Linked DNA regions of Homo sapiens: region 2 is linked to region 1. A link means that fine-mapping ties the variant in region 1 to the expression of a gene that starts in the linked region. Tissue or cell type: whole blood. Region 1 holds a variant in brackets; the other region holds the start of a gene. All regions are shown on one strand. Distances are between the middles of the regions.

Region 1 (5,145 bases):
AACATGGTGAAACCCCATCTCTACTAAAAATACAAAAACTAGCTGGGCATGATGGCACGCGCCTGTAGTCCCAGCAACTCAGGAGGCTGAGGCAGGAGAATCGCTTGAACCTGGGAGGTGGAGGTTGCAGTGAGCCGAGACGAGATCGTGCCATTGCACTCCAGCTCTGGGAAACAGAGCAAGACTCCATCTCGCAAAAACAAAAAGTAAACAAAAAACCCACAAATATATTGTCTCAAAAACTGCACATTATTCCTGTAAGCTAAGCATTATACCATTTTTGCATATAAGGCTCAGCAAAACTGCACAGTTAGGATTGGAACTTGGGATTCTTACCTGATTCCAAGTCCTATATTTTCTACCCCCATACTTTTTTAAAGGGCAGGGTAGAATAATCTAAGAAGCCCTTCTTATCTTTCAGAGAAATGTACCAGACAATGAAGATACTCAACTTAGGAAATGAAGGAAACCAAGAAATGCTTCAGGAGATCAAGAACAGGGTAAATAAGTGCAAGCTCTGTTCTCAAGAGAAAATTCAGGACTCTCAAGAGTTCCTCAGACCCTGTCCTCCTCAAACATGTACATACCCTTTTTCCCACCATAGAAGTACTTTCTAAAACCCCAGACACAGATGCCACATCATTTGAAGATGCAAAGCATCTGTGCAAGATTGGGTTACAAGGTCCTACTAGTAAAGACAAAAACAAAACAAAAATCCTATTAGTCCTATCAAGTAACCCTCATTGTTTCAGAAATACTATTTCCCTCCCTTCCTATTTTCTCCCCATCAACCCCAAACCCAAGTTGTTTATTTTTCCTTTTTTTCAAATAGGCATAGAGAAGGAATAAGGGACTAGAGCTGGCCCCCTAGATTTTCTTCTTAATTTTTCTGAATTCCTAATCTGGGTTTTCTCACCAAAGAAAATCTCTAGCTGAAAGGATTAACATAATTTTTGCTTTTTTTTTTGAGGGGGGGACAGTCTCGCTCTGTCGCCCAGGCTGGAGTGCAGTGGTGTGATCTTGGCTCACTGCAACCTCCACCTCCTGGGTTCAAGTGATTCTCGTGCCTCAGCCACCAAAATAGCTGGGATTATAGGCATGTGCCACCACACCCAACTAATTTTTTTGTATTTTTAGTGGAGACAAGGTTTTGCTATGTTGGCCAGGCTGGTCTTGAACTCCTGGCCTCAAGTGATCCACCCGCCTCAGCCTCCCAAAGTGCTGGGATTACAGGCATGAGCCATCATGCCTGGCCTGGATTGTTCTAATTTTTCAAAGCTGTTAGATAAGATGAAGGAATAGAGGGGAAAGGACTTTAAAAAGGTAATTCAAGAAACCAACTTCACATCAAGCAAGCAATTCTTAGCAGGTTCATCATGCCCAAAAAGCTGAAGTAAAATTTTCACGAACAGGTATAAAAAATCTCCAACCAATATCATAAGAGAACAATGTTCTCAGGCACTTATGTACCACCTACTACTGATAAGCATATGCAATTAGTTACTTCTTTATTTTCTAGAGACAGGGTCTCACTTTGTTGCCCAGGCTGGAGTGCAGTGGCATGATCACAGCTCACTGTAGCCTTGAACTGTTGGGCTCAAGTGATCCTCCCTCCTCAGCCTCCTACAATCACTTTATTAATGTTTTTTGATAATTTGCTGCCTAGTACAGGTGTTTTGTTTTGTTTTTCAAACATTATTTGTTCTAATTTAGATTAAAACACTAAGCCAAAAGGACTTGCTGACACACAAAATACTCAAGCTGGAGATGGTCATGGGAAAAGTGAGGGAGGAAGCAAAACGTGTTTACTTGAAACCCAAAGGAGAACAAGGACCACTAACACTCCAGACTTTACTCCAAGAAACTTTTCAGGGTAGGTTTCCTAGGGGTGAGTTCCATGCCTTGATTCCTTTAATAAGCCTCTTCCAGGATCTGGATGTTTTGGGACTTAGTAGCAAGCCTTAGAGGATGAAAGAGTCAGGAAAGGGTACTCTCTTCCCTCTTGGCTACCATCCACTCAGTCTTTGTGTTTTTTTTTTGTTTGTTTGTTTCTCGGGTTTTTATTCATTTATTTTCTCCCTTAAAAAAAAGTTATCTCTATTTGAACTGACTTAAAAGTTAGGTCAAAAAAGGACATATCAGAAAAACACAAGTCTTTATAAAACAATACTACCATGTATGTTTGACTAAGCACTCAAAAAAGCTTTATGAGCTTAACCTTAATAGTGGTAGTGGTTGGTGGTTGGGCGTGGTGGCGCACACCTGGACTCTCAGTGCTTTGGGAGGCCATGGTGGGAGGATCACCCCAGGCCAGGAGTTCAAAACCAGTCTGGGCAACATAGCAAGACCCCTCCATCTCTACAAAAAAATAAATAAATAAAAATTATCTGGGTGTGGTGGCACACACTGGTAGTCCTATCTACTAAGGAGGCTGAGATGGGAGGATTGCTTGAGCCCAGGAGGTTGAGGCTGCAGTAACCCAATATCTCACCACTGTACCCCAGCCTGGGCAACAAAGTGGGACCCTGTCTCAAACAAAAAAACAAACAAACAAAAAATAGTGCTTGTCTCTGGAAAGTGGGGTTGGAGGGAGAACTATCATTTTTACTTAGTGTATGTCTATGCTTTTGTAACTTTTTTAAAAAGAATTTGTAAAGTTCTCAACCTTAAATAACAGAAAACTATCCATTATGGTGACAGACTCTTAAGAGTCCCAGACGCAACCTAAATGATGAGGGTGCAGAAATCAAACTGTACCAAAATATACTTACAAAATCTGTGTGCCTGAGCGTAGCATCAGCCTCAGGTCACTCAGCCAGCTGCCTACCAGCTACCACCCCAAACCCAGGTCTTCTGGTTCCAAGTCCAGTGCTCTTTCTGGTACATCAGGCACTTTTCCACCAACCATGAGAATATTCACTTGTCAGATTTGGG[G/T]AAGTTTCTTCGAACTGCCAGAATAAAAATGAGAGTGGAAAGTAACTTGAACAGTAGCCTTCCTTCATGGCCAGCTTGCTAAAAGTTGGTTGCCTAAGGTCTATGAAGGCACAACTAGGTGACATGCTGCCCTTATGACAGCAGTGCCAGCCATGGATGTAAGCAAACAGTGAGCAAAAACATACCATGATCTTAAAACTGAACAAGCTGGTAGAAAATAATTTTTCTACTAGAATTGGGTTGCATAATTAAATAGCATAAATTATCCCCAAAGTTAGTGAACTGGTCCCAATCAGATAAGATTCTTTTTTGTTTTTGTTTTTGTTTTTGAGACGGAGTCTCGCTCTGTTGCCCAGGCTGGAATGCAGTGGCATGATCTCAGCTCACTGCAACCTCCACCTCCCAGGTTCAAGTGATCCTCCTGCCTCAGCCCCCCTAGTAGCTGGGATTACAGGCACGCACCACTATGCCTGGCTAATTTTTGTATTCTCACTAGAGATGGGGTTTTGCCATGTTGGCCAGGCTGGTCTCAAACTGCTGACCTCAGGTGATCCACCCGCCTCGGCCTCCTAAAGTGCTAGGATTACAGGCATGAGTACCGCACCCAGCCTGAGAGTCTCTTCCTTAAGAGGTTGATTAACATGCTCCTTTTACATGCTACAACCACCCCAGGTTGCTTTTCACTTCAGCCATTATAGATTTTCCCTATCTTCCTCCCGCTCCTGCATTTCTTCGAACCATCCCACATAATAATCTAGCCTTAGGAAAGGGAAACATTCTTTGGCACTTTAATAACTTTTCTAAGGTTCATACAAATTTAACAATAACAAACAGGATACTGACCCCGACCCGCCCATGAAAAAGAACTCAGATGAAAGATCCAAATTCCAAAAAAAATCTAATATCTGTCTCAAGCAGAACGACATGGTCAGTGTTACCCAGTACACTGAAGCCTGAAGGTGATGAAGTTGGTGCTCTGAAATGATCACGGATCAAGGGTTTTTTTTCCACCTCCAACTTCTCCTTTTCCTTTTGTACCTAGATGAGATGGTTCTTCCTAGAAGACCTTCCGAGGTTTGTGACACTGAAGCAGTGATAAAGGTAAATGTGAGCACACTGATGCTTATCAAGGTAAGAACGTGAGTTTAAGGAAAAAAAAAAAAAAAAGGTAGCAGTGGCAGCGGAGAATCACTACTGCCTTGTTTCCAGCAATCAACAAGAAACTAATTTAGGGCTAGAGGCATCTTAGTGAGCAGCAGCCCCTTATCATACAACGTGGTTGCCAAGGACAGCTGGTCCTCCACACTGTCACAGGGCAGGTCCCCCACTCTCACAAACTCTGGATAAGAACCAAGCAACAGTTCCATGGCATCAGCTTGCTGGGGGTATATTTCCAAGCACTTGGGTTCTTCCAGATGATACACACGGGAGTTTTCCACTGTGTAATAGAGAAACAAATGGCCCCCCTCACCCACCAGCCGAGCTATCCCATCCTGAAGCATATGGACTTCTGTTTCTGTTGTCAACTGGGCCCCCACGTTTACAGGTTCTCCAGCCTCCCAGCGAATTGGAAGCCCGTAAACACTTAGTGCCCTCTCCCTATCAGTCAAAACAGGGGGCAGAGAATCGTGAATGAAGTCTTTGGCTCGCTGGTCGGCCACAGCATCAACAGGAGCAAAGTGTCCCAGGCGGGCAACCAAGACCCGCACCTTCTCCATGAAAGCGGTTCTTCGCGGATCCTTAGAATCTGAATGCTGGGCCCCCATGTAATCCATGAAGTCTCGGGGCAGACCCCTCCGAAACTCCACATTTTCTTCCATTGCAGCCTGCACTGCCAGAGGCAGTATGGCCTCTAAGAAGTCACCCCAGGTATTGCGCTGGTACGTGGACAAGGTGAGGTGCAGAGAGTGGACTCCATCCTGGCATTCAGCTTGGTGAATGAAGCCCCGAGGAAAATACAGCAAATCTCCAGGTTCCAGCACGGTCTGCAGCACCGGCTCACCGAGGTCGTCCTGACTGAAGTTGGGGCTGGATGTCAGAGCCAGTTCCTCGGTTGGGACTCGGGGTCGGTATACACGCCAGAGTTTCCTACCTTCCAGCTGCAGCACGAAGGCCTCGATGTCGTCGTAGTGGGGGGCAAAGCCCTGCGAGTTAGGGGGCGTGAGGTAAACGTTGGAGCCTGCCATGCTTCCAAACTGCTCTTGAAGCACA
Region 2 (5,145 bases), 97 kb before region 1:
GATTAGAAATTCAATTTGCAATATACAGATAATATTTAATATTACTAAATAAAATCTCATGTGGATTTTACAATTAATTCTATATCACAAATTCATCTGACAGAAAAAGTGGAAATAGCACCTTAAGCCAAGGAAGTCTCCAGAAGACATCTTTGTGAAAGAGGAACAGAGCAGCATTTCTGCACGTGGTAAAGGTTACACTCTCTATGGAAATATTTCTAGAGAGACTGATTAAATAAAGGACATGAGGAGAACCTGGGGATGTTGAAGCATGTAGCATACGGCTTCTTCGAAGTACTCCAGGGATATGTTGTCCATGTTATTGGGGAGATCTTCAAAGTTATAATAAGCTAGAGCCAACGTGGCAAAGCCATGGCCAGCAAGGAGGCTGGCTCGATATTCCAAGAGGCCCCCTCCAATACCAAAGATGTCAATGATCCCTGGGAAGGGTCCAGGTCCTAGAGAACAAAATATTATAAATGTAAGCCATTATACAATTTAAAGAATTTGCTTTCCTGGCTGGACACTGTGGTTCATGCTTGTAATCTCAGCACTTTAGGAGGCCAAGGCAGGAGGATTGCTTGAGGCCAGGAGTTCAAGACCAGCCTGGACAATGTAGTGAGACCCCATCTCTACAATCTTTTTTTTTTTTTAATTAGTCAGTGTGGTGGTGTATGCCTGTAGTCCTAGCTACTTGGGAGGCAATGGAGGGAGGATCACTTGAGCCCCAGAGGTCAAGGCTGCAGTGAGGTGTGACCACACCACTGCACTCCAGCGTGGGCAACAGAGACAGACACTGTCTCAAAAAAAAAAAAAAAAAAAAGAAAGAAAGAAAAGAAAAAAGATTGAAACAAAACTTTATGTTCTGTTGCATCAGCCCTCTGGTTTTTAGTGTACTGATATTTCAGATGTCTATGTAGAAAGGGAGGAAAGAAAAAGAAATACCCAGAGATGGTTTTAGGTGAGAAAGGCAGTGGAGTCTGAAGTGTGACCTGTGATAAAGCAGCACATGAAGAAGTGGAGAAGAGACAGTGTGCCTAGAACACTAGAGAAGACGACATGGTAATAGCTTCATTCACTGTCATCATTCTGCCTTAGACAAGTCAGGCTGATGCCTGTAGAAATCTGTAGGGTAGTGATTAATAGCAAAGTGGATAATGTACCTGACGACCTGAACCTGTTTTTTCATCTGCAGAATAACAATACCAACTTCATTGGGATATTATAGAGACTAACTGATAGAATGCAAGTAAAAACCGTAGTACACAGCCTAACAAAAAATCCTTTTTTTTCTTTTTTCTTTTTTTGAGACGGAGTCTCGCTCTGTCACCCAGGCTGGAGTGCAGTGGTGCGATCTCGGCTCACTGCAACCTCCATCTCCCAGGTTCAAGCGATTCTCGTGCCTCAGCCTCCCGAGTGGCTGGGACTACAGGCGTGTGCCACCAGGCTGGACTAATTTTTGTATTTTCGGTAGAGTCAGCGTTTCACCATGCTGGCCAGTCTGGTCTCAAACTCCTGATCTCAAGTGATCCGCCCATCTCGGCCTCCCAAAGTGCTGGGATTACAGGCGTTAGTCACCACGCCCGGTACCAAACCCTCTATTTTGGTAGAGTGGCCACTGACATAGTCAATGTTAGCTTCTCTGATCTTGCTCCAAAACCAAACCAGTGCTAAATCAGCACTGGAAACAAACGGAGACTCAGGCCACTGACGCTCACACCACCCGCCAGCAGCCTGGCTCACCTGGCGGCAGGAAGAGCGTGGCGCGCACCCGGCCCGCTCGCACCGACTGGCGCCGCACCCCTGGCGGGAGGAAGTGGCGCTCGTGCTGCGCCTGGCACAGCAGCCGTCCAGGCTCGGGGTCGTGGCCGTCCAGCACCTCCAACTCCACGACAAAAGGAATCTGTACGTCCCGCTTCAGGAAGCGCCAAAAAGGCTTCTCGGGTTCCAGGGCCCAGAGCAGCCCCATGGGCTCGAGTCCCGCGAAGCTGCCGCCCAGCGCGGGTGCGCGCTCCAGGTCCAGCTCGCCGCGGGCGTCGGCGCAGTAGCGCGCGTGGGCCCGGAAGAGCGCGCCCTTCTCGTCGCGCAGGGACGCGCGCAGCGTAACCCGCTGCTCCGGGGCCAGGCCGCGCACGGCAATGCGCACCGGCTCGTTCCAGCAGCAGCGGCCTGGGGGCTCCAGGATCAGCGTTGCTGACATCTTGGAGCCGGAGCGGGGAATTCAAAGGTCGAGGCCCGAGACCCGTCCAAGATCGTGGCAAGCGCGCCGAATGTCCGGACGGCGTCCGGCGTCCCCTGGTGCCGGAAGCTGCCGGTGGCTGAGCAGTCCCAGAAAGCCCCTGGGACTTCAGACCGGTTAACCCGGCGCTCCGGACTCGTCTGAGGCAAAAGTAGCCAGGCTCCTCTTCAGGGTCGTCTCCTTGGGCCCCGGGGCGCGCAAGGTGTGGCGCCCAACCCACCCCGTAGAAAGCCTCTCTGCCTCACACCACCCTCGGTTGTTGGAATGAAAGTTGTTGGATGATCAATTTGTGGTGAAACCAAAAGCCAATGAGATCAAGCCAAATTCCAGCCTTTCATGGGCTCCATGGAAGGTTTTGTTTTTAACTTTTTTTTTTTTTGAAACAGAGTCTCCTCTGTCGCCCAGGCTGGAGTGCAGTGGCGCTTCGGCTCACTGCAATCTCCGCCTCCTGGGTTCAAGCGATTCTCCTGCCTCAGCCTCCCGAGTACCTGGGATTACAGGCGCGCGCCACCATGCCGCTAATTTTTGTATTTTTAGTAAAGAGGGAGTTACACCATGTTGGCCAGGCTGGTCTTGAACTCCTGACTTCAAGTGATCTTCCCGCCTTGGCCTCCCAAAGTGCTAGGGATTACAGGCGTGAGCCGCTGCGCCCGGCCTGCTTTTTTGTTGTATTTGAGACAGGGTCTCTCTCTGTCATCCAGGCTGCAAGGCGGTGGCTCGATCACAGGTCACTGCAGCCTCCACCTCCCAGGCTCAAGTGATCCTCCTGTCTCAGCCTTCGGAGTAGCTGTGACTACAGACAGCGCACCACCATGCCACGTTAATTTTTAAATGTTTATTTTTAGAGAGGAGGTGTCACCCTGTTTCCCAGGCTGGTCTCGAACTCCTGAGCACAAACTATCCTCCTGCCTCTGTAGTCCCAAAGTGCTAGTGATACGTGACAGCATGCTGGCTGCCCTCGCTCGCTGTCGGCGCCTCCTCGGCCTTGGCGCCCACTCTGGCCGCGCTTGAGGAGCCCTTCAGCCCGCCGCTGCACTGTGGGAGCCCCTTTCTGGGCTGGCCAAGGCCGGAGTCGGCTCCCTCAGCTTACTGGGAGGTGTGGAGGGAGAGGCGCGGGCGGGAACCGGGGCTGCCCGCGGGGCTTGCGGGCCAGCGCGAGTCCCGGGTGGGCGTGGGCTCGGCGGCCCCGCACTTGGAGCGGCCGGCCGGCCCGCAAGCCCCGGGCAGTGAGGGGCTTAGCACCTGGGGCAGCAGCTGCTGTGCTCGATTTCTCAGCGGGCCTTAGCTGCCTCCCCGCGGCGCAGGGCTCGGGACCTGCAGCCCGCCATGCCTGAGCCCCCGCCCCCGCCGTGAGCTTCTGCGCGGTCCGAGCCTCCTCAACGAGCTCCGCTCCCTGCTCCACTAACGCCCAGTCCCATCGACCGCCCAAGGGCTGAGAAGTGCGGGCGCACGGCGCGGGACTGGCAGGCAGCTCCACCTGCGAACCCCGTGCGGCATCCACTGGGTGAAGCCAGCTGGACTCCTGAGTCTGGTGGGGACTTGGAGAATCTTTATGTCTAGCTAAGGGATTGTAAACACACCAATCAGCACCCTGTGTCTAGCTCAGGGTTTGTGAATACACCAATCGGCACTCTGTATCTAGCTAATCTAGTGGGGAGGTGGAGAACTTTTGTGTCTAGCTCAGGGATTGTAAACGAACCAATCAGCACCCTGTCAAAACGGACCAATCGGCTCTCTGTAAAATGGGCCAATCAGCAGGATGTGGGTGGGGCCAGATAAGGGAATAAAAGCAGGCTGCCAGAGCTAGCAGTGGCAACTTGTTGGGGTTCTTTTCTACGTTGCGGGAAGGTTTGTTCTATTTAGTTTTGTAATAAAGGTAGCTCAGTTTTTGGGCCCGCACTGCTGTTGTGAGCTGTAACACTCATTGCGAAGGTCCGCAGCTTCACTTCTGAAGCCTACCAGACCACGAACTCACCAGGAGGAACGAACAACTCCAGACATGCCGCCTTAAGAGCTGTAACACTCACCGCAAAGGTTTGCAGCTTCACTTCTGAGCCAGCAAGACCACGAACCCACCAGAAGGAACAAACTCTGAGCACATGGGAACATCAGAAGGTACAATCTCCAGACACGCTGCCTTTAAGAACTGTAACATCTCCGCGAGGGTCTGTGGCTTCGTTGTTGAAGTCAGTGAGACCAAGACCAGTCTGGAAACACCAGGATTATAGGTGGGAGCTACCTGCCGTGCCTGGCCATACATGTCAGTTTACTTAAAAAAAGCTTTTTGATGAAATATAAGGTAGGCTAGGCACAGGGGCACACACTTGTAATCTCAGTGCTGTGGGAGGCCGAGTTGGGCGGATCGCTTGAGGTTGGGAGATCTAGACGAGCCTGTCCAACATGGTGAAACCCGCCTCCACTAACAATACAAAAATTAGTGGGGCATGGTGATGTGCACCTGTAGTCTCAGCTACCTGGGAGGCTGAGGCAGGAGAATTGCTTGAACCTGGCAGGCAGAGGTTGCAGTAAGCTGAGATCATACCACTGCACTACAGCATCGGTGACAGAGCGAAACTTTCAAAAAAAGGAAAGGGAAAAAGAAAAGAAAAAAGGGAAGGAAGAGAGAAAGCAAAAGTATTGGAGATAGTAAAAAGATCAGTAGTTGCCAGGGATTGTGGGGAGGGAGGGATGAATAGTTGGAACAATTTTTAGGGCAGTGAAGCTGTTCTGTATGATACTGTAATGGTGGATACATGTCATTATACATTTGTCCAAAACTGTAGATGTAGAACAAACGAACCCTAAAGCAAACTAGAGATTTGGGGTGATAATGGTATGTCAGTGAAGGTTAATCAATTGTAACAAATGTACCATTCTGGTGGGGGATGTTGATAGTGGAGATAAGG

The links. PIP is the estimated chance that this variant, and not a neighbour inherited with it, causes the effect.
Region 2: it holds the start of ACOT4, and the variant in region 1 is fine-mapped to the expression of ACOT4 in whole blood (TOPMed, PIP 0.96).

The regions. Positions count from the first base shown.
Region 1 is chr14:73,491,956-73,497,100 of GRCh38, reverse strand. HEATR4 (HEAT repeat containing 4) reads left to right here. Exons shown (of 18, transcript NM_001220484.1): 15 at 422-500; 16 at 1,714-1,873; 17 at 3,977-4,035. RIOX1 (ribosomal oxygenase 1) reads right to left here. Exons shown (of 1, transcript NM_024644.5): 1 at 3,707-5,145. The coding sequence ends at 4,158. It also overlaps a transcript of ACOT1 not described here. Among named protein-coding and RNA genes, the nearest start is that of RIOX1, 3.6 kb to the right of the region's middle. RefSeq lists an enhancer at 4,703-5,145. The variant G/T (reference allele first, on the strand shown) is at 2,935.
Region 2 is chr14:73,589,015-73,594,159 of GRCh38, reverse strand. It overlaps ACOT4 (acyl-CoA thioesterase 4), which reads right to left and starts at 2,287. Exons shown (of 3, transcript NM_152331.4): 1 at 1,744-2,287; 2 at 256-458. The coding sequence starts at 2,200. It also overlaps a transcript of HEATR4 not described here. RefSeq lists a silencer at 1,673-1,742 and an enhancer at 1,554-2,053.